Linked DNA regions of Homo sapiens: region 1 is linked to region 2. Evidence: fine-mapped expression QTL. A gene starts in region 2. The other region holds a variant in brackets. All regions are shown on one strand. Distances are between the middles of the regions. Region 1 has its middle 270 kb from the start of LINC00993. Region 2 holds the start of ZNF25 (zinc finger protein 25).

The links. PIP is the estimated chance that this variant, and not a neighbour inherited with it, causes the effect. A credible set is the group of variants that fine-mapping cannot tell apart.
Region 1: its variant is the best candidate, but not a certain one, in a credible set for the expression of ZNF25 in whole blood (INTERVAL, PIP 0.80).

Annotation. Positions count from the first base shown.
Region 1 is chr10:37,580,383-37,585,770 of GRCh38, reverse strand. No RefSeq gene overlaps it. Among named protein-coding and RNA genes, the nearest start is that of LINC00993, 270 kb to the right of the region's middle. The variant G/A (reference allele first, on the strand shown) is at 2,340.
Region 2 is chr10:37,973,702-37,979,089 of GRCh38, reverse strand. It overlaps ZNF25 (zinc finger protein 25), which reads left to right and starts at 2,443. Exons shown (of 6, transcript NM_145011.4): 1 at 2,443-2,584. It overlaps ZNF25-DT (ZNF25 divergent transcript), which reads right to left and starts at 2,335. Exons shown (of 6, transcript XR_930830.4): 1 at 2,085-2,335. RefSeq lists enhancers at 2,200-2,429, 3,470-3,559 and a silencer at 2,470-2,879.

The sequences.
Region 1 (5,388 bases), 390 kb after region 2:
CACAGACAAATAAAAAAGGCTTGCTTTCTTCCCACCCCATATTCTTATTTCACATCTAAACAATAATCAAGATTCAACCATTTACTTCCCAAATTATTTTTTGTAACATAATAGTTTTATTGAGATATAATTCACACACTGTATGATTCACCCATTTAAACTATGCAAGTCCTTTCTTAAAATATATTCACAAGTTGTGCCACTATCACCACAATCAACTTTCAAACATTTTCATCACTACAAAAAAGGAACACCGTACGTGAAAGCAGTCCCTCTCTATTTCTCCCCAAAGTGTCCAGCACCAGGCAACCACTGTTCTTTCTGTCTCTAAATGTTTCTATTCTGAAAGTTGTATATAAATGGAATAATACAATATATGGTCTTTTGTAATTGATTTCTTTCACTTAGCATAATATTTTTAAAGTCCATCCACGTTTTAGCGAGTATCAGTACTTTGGTACTTTTTATTGCTGAATAATATTCTACTGTATGGGCTGGGCATAGTGGCTCATGCTTGTAATCCCAGCACGTTGGGAGGCCGAGGTGGGCAGATTACTTGAGGTCAGGAGTTCAAGACCAGCCTAGCCAACATAGTGAAACCTGTCTCTATGAAAATACAAAAATTAGCCAGGCGTGGTGGCAGGCACCTGTAATCCCAGCTGCTTGGGAGGCTGAGGCAGGAGAATCGCTTGAACCTGGGAGATGGAGGTTGCAGTGAGCCGAGATCGTGCCATTGCACTCTAGCCTGGGAGACAAGAGCGAAACTCCATCTCAAAAAAAGAAAATAAAAACCACAATTCTACTGTGTGGATATTTATCCATTTATCAGCTGATAGAAATTTGAACTGTTTTCACATTTTGGCTATTAAGAATAATGCCAGACATTCTTGCACAGTTTGGGTGTGGACATATGTTTACATTTATCTTAAGTACATACCTAAACGAGGAAGTGCTGGGTCATGTTACCATTATCACTCTATTTTTAACCTTTTGAGAGATTGCCAGACTGTTTTCCAAAGTAACTGCACCATTTTACACATTTTCCAGCAGTCTACGAGTGTTCCAATTTCCCCACATCTTCACATACACGTGTGGTTGTCTGATTTTATTATACCCATCCTAGTAGGTATCAAATAGTAACTCATTATAGTTTTGGTTTGCATTTTTCTGATGGTTAACTATGTCTTGCATGTTTTCGGGTACGCATTGGTTGTTGTATATTTTCTTTGGTGAAATATCTATTCAGATCCTTTGACCATTTTTAAACTGTGTCTTTTGAATTTTTATTGTTAATTTGTAAGAGTTCTTTATATATTCTACCTACAAGTCACATATATATGTTTAGAAAATATTTCTTCCATTCTGTGGGTTGTCTTTTTACTTTCTTGATGGTAGCCTTTAAAACACACATTTTTAAAAACTGATGATCTAATGTATTTACTTTTTCTTTTGTTGCCTGTGTTTTTATTATCCTATCAAAGATGACTTTGCCTAGCCCAAGGTTATGAAGATTCACTACATTTGTTTTTGGAGTTGTAGATGTTTAAGCTCTTACACTGGGGCCTATGATCTACTTTGAGTTAATTTTTGTGCATAGAATGAGTCCCAACTACTTTTAAAATTTGTCTTCTCATTGCTAACCAAATGGTCACTTCTTTTGCCCAAGGCAATGTCCTTTCTGGCCTAGATTACCACATGAATCTTTTCATCGTTATCTTTGCTTTCCATCTGGGTCAGCTTCATTCTATGTTCTGAAACAATTAGTCTTTTTTTTTTTTTTGAGACAGAGTCTTGCTCTGTCGCCCAGGTTGGAGTGCAGTGGCACGATCTCGGCTCACTGCAAGCTCTACCTCCCAGGTTCACGCCATTCTCCCACCTCAGCCTCCCAAGTAGCTGGGACTACAGGCACCCACCACCAAGCCCAGCTAATTTTTTTGTATTTTTAGTAGAGACGGGGTTTCACTGTGTTAGCCAGGATGGTCTTGATATCCTGATCTCGTGATCCGCCCGCCTCGGCCTCCCAAAGTGCTGGGATTACAGGCATGAGCCACCGTACCCGGCCTAACAATTAGTCTTTCTAAAATACATACCTAAGTGTGTTACTCTCCATAGAGAAATCTATATTTATTTTCAAGACTGAGTCTTTCTATGTTGCCCTGCCTGAGCTCAAGTGATCTTCCTGCTTCCACCTCCTGAGTAGTTGGGAGTACAGGTGTGCACCAGCACATCCTGCTAGAGAAACATATTTTTAAAAATGCAGAGTATACCTTGGCTTTAGCCTTAGATATACAAACTCAAAAAGAAGAATTCTGTAATCAGATAGTCTCACATATCTGAGC[G/A]TTTGCTGTGTTCCTGCCTAAACAATTTGATTATAACTCTGGATGCTTGACTATTCTCTAAGATTTCAGAGTAACAAAGTGAAAATTCCACCCCAAATTATAAGAAAGGTGTAAAGAACTTTATTTTATTCTATTTATTTTTCTCTTGCATTTTTGTTGTCATTGTTTTTGACTAATATATATATCAAGAGGTTATACGAAAGGATTCTGACATCCATAAGTATTCATTTAAAACACAGGTATGTATAATTTTAAAAAATAACAAACAGGAATTTTTTATATTCTTAGATTTCAAATTATAAAATAAAGATATTAAGTAAATAATGAGAGATATATTTTGCCTTCAGAGTTGATCAACATCAACTTTGTACCCATGTGTCCAGTATTCAGTTTTGTAAACAGTGGGTCATAAATAAATTGGTTTCTAAGTGAATTAACAAAATGTGAGCTGCTAAGATAATATATTAAATTAGAACAAAATTATTAGTTATTGGAAATGCGAACTATTGTGGTATAGTTTAATTTCTCAATTAAAAATAAGTCTAAATTTAACCAGTGTATATATTAATAAATTCACTACTTATAAAAGTTTGAAAGATAATTTTGCAAAATCAGGAAGAATTACTGATCTATAGCTGTTTTAAATTGTTTCATATATCTTTAGCCTTTCATTAAAATATAATTTTAATGTTTTTGTATCCTAAAAAGGTTAAACTACATAATTCATGAATAAACTTAAATATTTATTTTAATAGCACTTAAATCTTGGTTTTCATCCAAGAAGTGATTGCAGACGGATTTACATGCTGACCTGACATATAAAACATTCTTATTGTAACTCACAGGCATCCAAGAAAGCTATGGGAAGTGAGAAAGAAATATTTTTATAAATTTTATTGGAACAAGCATAGCATTATGAACAATATGCAGTTTTCTCCTGGGAGCTTACCCATGAAACAGAAGCCTGTTCATTTTGCCCTCAATGCAGCAATGAAACTGTACAGGTGGTGAGGCAGTGACACATGCATGAATGGCCAGAGTGTTAGTGAGATCTGACCCAGAATGATCTTGCATATGAATCTGCCTTTCTCCAAAGAGAACCATGCAAGGCTTACAGCTGACATTTTACTTAATTCATGTTGTTGTCCACATTGGCCCTTTAGTACATATAAATTATTTTGTGAAATAATAGAAAAGGAAGAGCTGTGGATTAGTGGTCATAGCCAGGGAATTGAAAGTCAGAAGTGCATGCTCAGCTCTGACAATGGCTTTTTGTGTAGTAGTAAACAAGGTTCCTGACTTTAGCAATTAGGGTTACCATAGATTAACCGTGTACTATATTAATTTTCCTACCTTCTAATTTAGGGAAATTAAGTTCATTAAGTCATCAACATTTACTGAGCACTTACTATGTAGAAGACACAGACAAACTATGCTGAGGCATACGTTCTGGAAAGAAAATGTGTCTTGCGGCTTTGATATTCAAACATTTTGAGTGAAACAATTCGGCAATAAAATTTCTTTGGAATTTTAATAGGTCCAGCTTGGAAAGGCCCAATAATGGAATGATGGTTTGGCAGGAGCACCTCTCCAGCACTTTGTGAGTTTCCTGAATTCCACTAGTGCTTAGATTAGATTATGCAAAGCTGAGTTTGCAGCACTGGAGACCTGACATGGCATAAAAGGGTGTGGCAGATAACTTGGTCTAACCCCTCCTACAATCCCAACACGCTCAACAAAGTTGCTGGTATTGCCTCCTAAATGTCATAGGCAAATGGCACAGCGCATGGTGTGGGTCTGATCCCATCCTTACTATTCAAAGGCTACATGACCTCTGGCAAGTTAACCTGTGTCACAGTTTTCTCACCTATGAAAGGAACATCATAACAGTAATCTCACATGTTATTGTAAGAATTATATAAAATAACTGCCAGAATTTCAAAGGTTCAACAAATATTAGCCCCTTGGTGTCTTCCTCTGACCAGAAACATCTCAAAATGCTGCTGCTGCAATCATATAGTTACATGGAAATTACATTTTTCAGCCAATCCAGATCAGATTTAGTCCAATATCTATAGCTGAAAAAATGTAGGGAACTAAATATTAGAAAAGTCTGAGCTGAGAATCCTTGGCTCTTCCCTAGTTTTATTTGTGACTTTAGGAAATTAATTCAGTATCCTTTGGCTTCATGGAAGCCATACTTCCATGTGTGTCTAAGTGTGTTACTCTCCATAGAGAAATGTATATATTTATACATTGTTGGGATATAAAAATACTGGGGAGGAAAAGTTAGGGAATAAGGAAATCAATACTATTTCAATGCTTCTTGTATAGTTATTGGGTGAGTCAAATGAGTCATGGATATGGTTCAGAAAAAATAATGTGTTATTCATTTGCCATTTTAGTCTGAACAAAAATTAGAAAAAGGAGAGAGGAGAGAAAATCACGTTGAGTTGTATCCAATCATTCCCCGAAGAACAAATTTGCAAATTCATATTATGGGGAAGTTAGTTAAATATGTCCACCACCAATTTACACAGAAACAATCAGCACTTTGGGCATAAAACACAAGACTAGTTGTGCAAATCTCATCAGCCAGAACCTTCAGACTCAGAGCTGCCTATAAGAGTGAACAAGCATGGCATCTGCTTTCAAAGCTAAAAAAAATAAAAAAATAATAAATAATAATATATGAAACTTTGGATTTTTTTTTTTGAAACGGAGTTTCCCTCTTGTTGCCAAGGCTAGAGTGCAGTGGTGTGATCTTGGCTCACCGAAACCTTTGTTTCCCGGGTTCAAGCGATTCTCCTGCCTCAGCTTCCTGAGTAGCTGGGATTACAGGCGCACCGAGTAGCTGGGATTACAGGCGCACCACTACGCCCGGCTAATTTGTTGTATTTTTAGTAGGGACGGGGTTTCACCATGTTGGACAGTCTGGTCCCCAGAAGATCTACCGGCCTCGGCCTCCCAAAGTGCTGATTGCAGGCGGGAACCACCATGCCCAGCCCCTTTAGGGTATTAATAGTAAAATAAGGATCTGATGAGATAA
Region 2 (5,388 bases):
GCCTAGCTATGTTAGTTAATAGAGATTATTTAGAGATGCAAATTTTCCCACAAAGGACGGCTTGCAGGGCCATTTCAAAATGTGACAAACATGTTTTTGGGGTAAAATGTTTTTATTTTCTTCCTTGTCTCATAATGTTATGCCAGAGTCTGGTTGGAAAGTAAGTCACATTTTATGGGGTTAAATAAAACCCATCTGATATGAATTTATGGTTTGTAGGGCATAACTCCTCAGACCCCTTAGATAGAAATTTGGATAAGATAAAAAAAATCAGAGTTTAGTCTTCAGTTCCTTGCTATTCCCTGAGGTTGTTTCCTGAGGAAGTTAAAAATTATTTTATCAAGTAAAACAAAACTAAGCTCCCCGTTAAGATTTTTTAATTTAAATTTTGATTGAAATTGTGTTAAATTTTATAGTTTCTCTAAGGGTAAATATAAATATAAAAATTTGGGCTGGGCGCAGTGGCTCACGCCTGTAATCCCAGCACTTTGGGAGGCTGAGGCAGGTGGATCACGAAGTCAGGAGCTCAAGACCACCTTGGCCAAGATGGTGAAATCCCGTCTCTACTAAAAATACAAAAAAAATTAGCCAGGCGTGGTGGTGGGCGACTGTAATCCCAGCTACTCAGGAGGCTGAAGCAGAGAATTCCTTGAACCTGGGAGGCAGAGGTTGCAGTGAGCCGGGATCATGCCACTGCATCCCAGTCTGGGTGACAAAGCCAGACTCTGTCTCAAAGAAAAAAATAAAACAACTGAATTTTCCTTCTTGCAAAAAGGGAAAAAGACCTTTACTCCTCTCTTTTCTTACAGCATTTCCTTAAGAAAACTTGTAATTGTAAATCCCTTCTCTGTCCCTGTGAGATATAGCAAAACTTTTTAAAAAGTAAATAAGCTTCTTGCTAGTTTAACAACCCAGGAAGGTCTTTCTTAATGGCCTTGGGTCATGTCTTTGAAATGTAAGCATCAAGGAAGATTGCACCCCATCTCCCTGCCTCTGTGGTAAACTCCTAGGCTCCTGGCTACCCGCGGTTAACTACCTGCGTGTCATAGAGATACCAGAAACTTTACTTTTCATTTGCATAATGGCAATTAACTAACACTGATGGCTACCCTAATTATCAGGTGAATTTCAGATGAATTATGCATAGCAAATGTTGCTGTACAGTCATCTTACTTGAGGACAAGTTATTTTTACCTTGAGGAAATAGAATGCGTTGTACCAGACCGGCTAATACAAAAAATGATAGTTCTTCCTGTCTTCATAAACTCATTAGTGGGTTGCCTGTGACGCACATCGCAGTCTGGTTTAATGTTTATTCAATAATGTAACTGTTTTGTTCTTTTCTCCATCTGTGGAGAGAATTTTCTGGGTTGGCAAGAGGCTTTATTTTAAATTATTTCCTCAATACTTCCCATCCAGAAAGGTGGTGTGTGTGTGTGTATTATGTGCGCATATTTTTATATGTATATATATGTGTGTTTATACACATGACAATATATACGTTTTTTTCTAGATGATTCTACATGTTTTAATGTAATAAAGTTATTGACCAGGAAATATATAATTTGTTTTACATATACAGCCAAGTCCTCTCTCTGTATCCGCGGGGGATTAGTACCAGGACCTCCCTGGATTACTCAAATCCAGGGATGTTCAAGTCTCTGGTAGAAAATAACCTGATATTTGCATAACCTACACACCTCCTCCTGTATATTTTAAATTATGTCTAGATTAATTGTACACCTAACACAATGTAAATACTATGTAAATAGTTTTATTGTATTGTTTAGGGTATAATGACAAGGGGGAAACTTTGTACATGTTCAGTAAGATAGAATTTTTAAGTATTTTCATTCTGAGCTTAGTTGAATCCATAGATATGCACCCCCAGGATAAGGAGGGATGACTATATATATTCCTTAGTGAAATGATAGTCATGATACTCTATACCATTAGGTTAAAATTTGTGTAAATTCATGAGAAGGATGTTCACCTAACATTAAGCGCTTTTGCTTTTGGGAAGTGGTATACTCGTTTTCTGTTTTAGCTTATACATATTTTGTAGTTTATTACGTTTCGCGTACCGTTTGCACAATTGTGAAAGCTAGCATTCCTAAGAGGAAGCGGTTACAGGGCATTATCCTTCATTACTCCACGTACTCCTGTACCCACGGAGTTCAATCACTTTAACAAAACTGCCCATCAGTGTTCCTTGGAGCACCTCACGGTGGATTTCTGTCTTCAAGCCCAGACGTGCAGGGTGCAGCTCTCCGGCCATCACTGAGCAAGGACAGCGCCCTCTCCCGGAAACCCGACAGCAATCACTCAGGCCGCTGGAGGCGGCCGCGCCTCACGACGTCATCCAAGATGGAGTCGCAGCCGGGCCTTCTGGGAAGCGTAGTTCTGGAGTAGGGCTAGGGAAACGTTCTGCGCATGTGCAGTGTCTTCTTTCTGGCATTGGCGTTTTTTTGGTCTTACGCCCTAGGGTGGGGAGAGGACTCCGGTGCCTCCGGGTCTGGGCTGGGCCGCAAAGGGCGGGGCCTGGGCCCGGCGCGGGCCGGGAGCAGAGGCCGAGACCCTGCAGGTGTGTCGAAGGCTTTTGCGGGCGGGCAGGGCCTGGGAGGCGGGGTCTCGAGCCTGGAAGCCGCCTCCTGGCCCCGGAGCGGCCTCCGCGGAGGGCCCTGGGTGGGAGCCGCCTGGTGGGGAGGTTGGCTGGCTGCGCTGGCGCCCCTGCCCGGAATGGCGTTTGCGCGACCTGCTTGAGGGGCGGCCAGAGGAGGCCTGCGGTGCTGGGCAGTGGGCGCCCGGAGCAGCCGCATTGTGTGACGTGACCGGAGCCGCCATGTGAGGCGCGCTGGCCGCTGCAGACGCGGCGCTCCAAAGCCGCAGGGACGTGGGCTCTGGTCCAGCGTCTGTAGGTGGTCCCAGTGCGGCTCGACGCGCATCTGGCAAATGATGGGGGCCTTTGGGTACTGAATAGGGTAATAGATGTAAAGTATGATACAGGACTCAATAAAGGTGAGCTGCTTCTATTATTACAAAACATGCTGTTTTCATTATTGGCTCATTTAATCATCGTAACCATCCTTTCGACTTAACCATCTCTATTAAAATAAATGTGACTATTAAAGATTCAGAGAGAGAAATCCGTTTACCCACAGTATTAGCAGGTGGGATGTAAATCCTCACTTTTTCCTCTGAGTTAATGCGCCTTGCCACACTAAAATCCAGTCTTGACTTGTATTTAGCACAGCATTTGCCCCTTGAGCACCACCAGAACGTAGCTGTGTGGTGTACTTGAACCCAGTCTCAACCAGGTAGTGTTCTGTTTCCAAAAATGCTTGGGGAATCTTCAGAGCACTTGAGTCAAAAGGTGAATTATTTAAGGCCTTCCTGCATCCTCCAACCTTAGTCTCTTCTCAGAGGACTGTGAAACGTGTAAATTGAAACCACAATTTGAGCCCTCAATTTTGCATTTTACAGGAGAAGCTGGGAATCCCATCCAGCCCAGAGGCTAGTTTCTAAAGACAGGAAATGGGACAAAAAATTTTTTTAAAGATGAAAACTGCAGTTCATCAGTTCCTCCATTTTATGGTGGTGATCTTATAATGCCTCTCATTGGCTGATAACTGAGCTTAGGCATTTCGTAAGCACCATGCTAGCTGGAAGTGGTTTTTGCTGCTTATTTTAGTTTTTTTTTTTGGTACATAATGTACATATTTGTGGGGTACATGTGATATTTTGATATATGCATACAATGTGTCATGATCAAATCGGGGTAATTACAATATCCACCGCCTCATTTATCATTTCTTTGTGTTGCAAATATTCGAAATCTTCTAGCTATTCTGATAGCTAATAAATTATTGCTAACACTTGTAACCATACTGTGCTATTGAACACTAGGACTTAATCCTTCTACCTAACTGTATTTTTGTACCCATTAACCAACCTCTCTTCATTCCTCACTCCCTACTTCCCTTCGCAGCCTCTGGTAACCATCATTCTACATCGTATCTTCATGAGATCAACTATCTTAGCTCCTGCGTATGAGTGAGAACATGATATTTGTCTTTCTGTGCCTGGCTTATTTCATGTAACATAATGCCCTCCAGTTCCATCTTTGTTGCTGCAATGACAAAATTTCCTTCTTTTTATGTCTGAATAATATTCCATTGTGTATATATACCACAATTTTCATTATCTATTCATGCATTGATGGGTACTTAGGTGGATTCTGTATCTAGACTATTGTGAATAGTGCTGCGATAAAAATGGGAGTGCAGAGATATCTTCAATATACGGATTTCCCTTCTTTTGGATATATATATAGCAGTGAGATTGCTAGATCATATGGTAATTCTGTTTTCAATTTTTTGAGGAACCTCCATACTGTTTTCCACAGTGGCTGTACTAGTTTACATTGCCACCAAGGTTGTATGAGGGTTCTCCTTTCTCTATATCCCAGCATTTGTTATTTTTTTGCCTTTTTTATAATAGCTGTTTTAAGGGGTAAAATGATATCCCATTATGGTTTTGATTTGCATTTGTCTGATGATTAATGATGTTGAAGATTTTATCGTATACCTATTGGCCATTTGTATGTCTTCTATTGTGGAATGTCTGTTCAGATCATTTGCTCAATTTTTTTAAATCAAATTTTTTGTTTTCTGACTGTTGAGTTCCTTGTATATTCTGGTTATTAATTCCTTGTCAGATGGGTAGTTTGCAAATATTTTCTCCTATTCTTTGGGTGTCTTTTCACTGTTATTGCTTACTTTGCTGTGCTGAAACTTTTTCGTTTGATGTAATCCCATTCATCTATTTTTGCCTTTGTTGCTTGTGCTTTTGAGGTCTTACCAAAAAATTTTTGCCGAGAACAATGTTCTGAAGCATTTCCAAATGTTTTCTTCAAGTAGTTTCATAGTTTCAGGTCATACATTTAACTCTTTAATCCACTATCATTTGATTTTTGCATATGATGAGAGACAGGGGTTTAGTTTCATTCTTCTGCGTATGGATATCCAGTTTTCTCAGCACCATTTATTGAAGAAACTGTCATTTCTCCAATGTATGTTCTTAGTGCCTTTGTCAAAAATGAAATTGGCTATAAATGCATGTATTTATTTCTCAATTCTCTTTTTCATTGATCTATGTGTCTCTTTTTATGCCAGTAACCTACTGTTTTGTTTACTATAGCTTTATAGTATATTTTGAAGTCTGGTAGTACAATGCCTCCACCTTTGTTCTTTTTGCACAAAATTGCTTTGGCTACTCGGGGTCTTTGGTGGTTCCATATAAATTTTAGGATTTTTTTTCCTATTTCTGTGAAGAATGTCATTGGTATTTGGATATGGATTGCATTTAATCTGTAGACTGCTTTTAGTA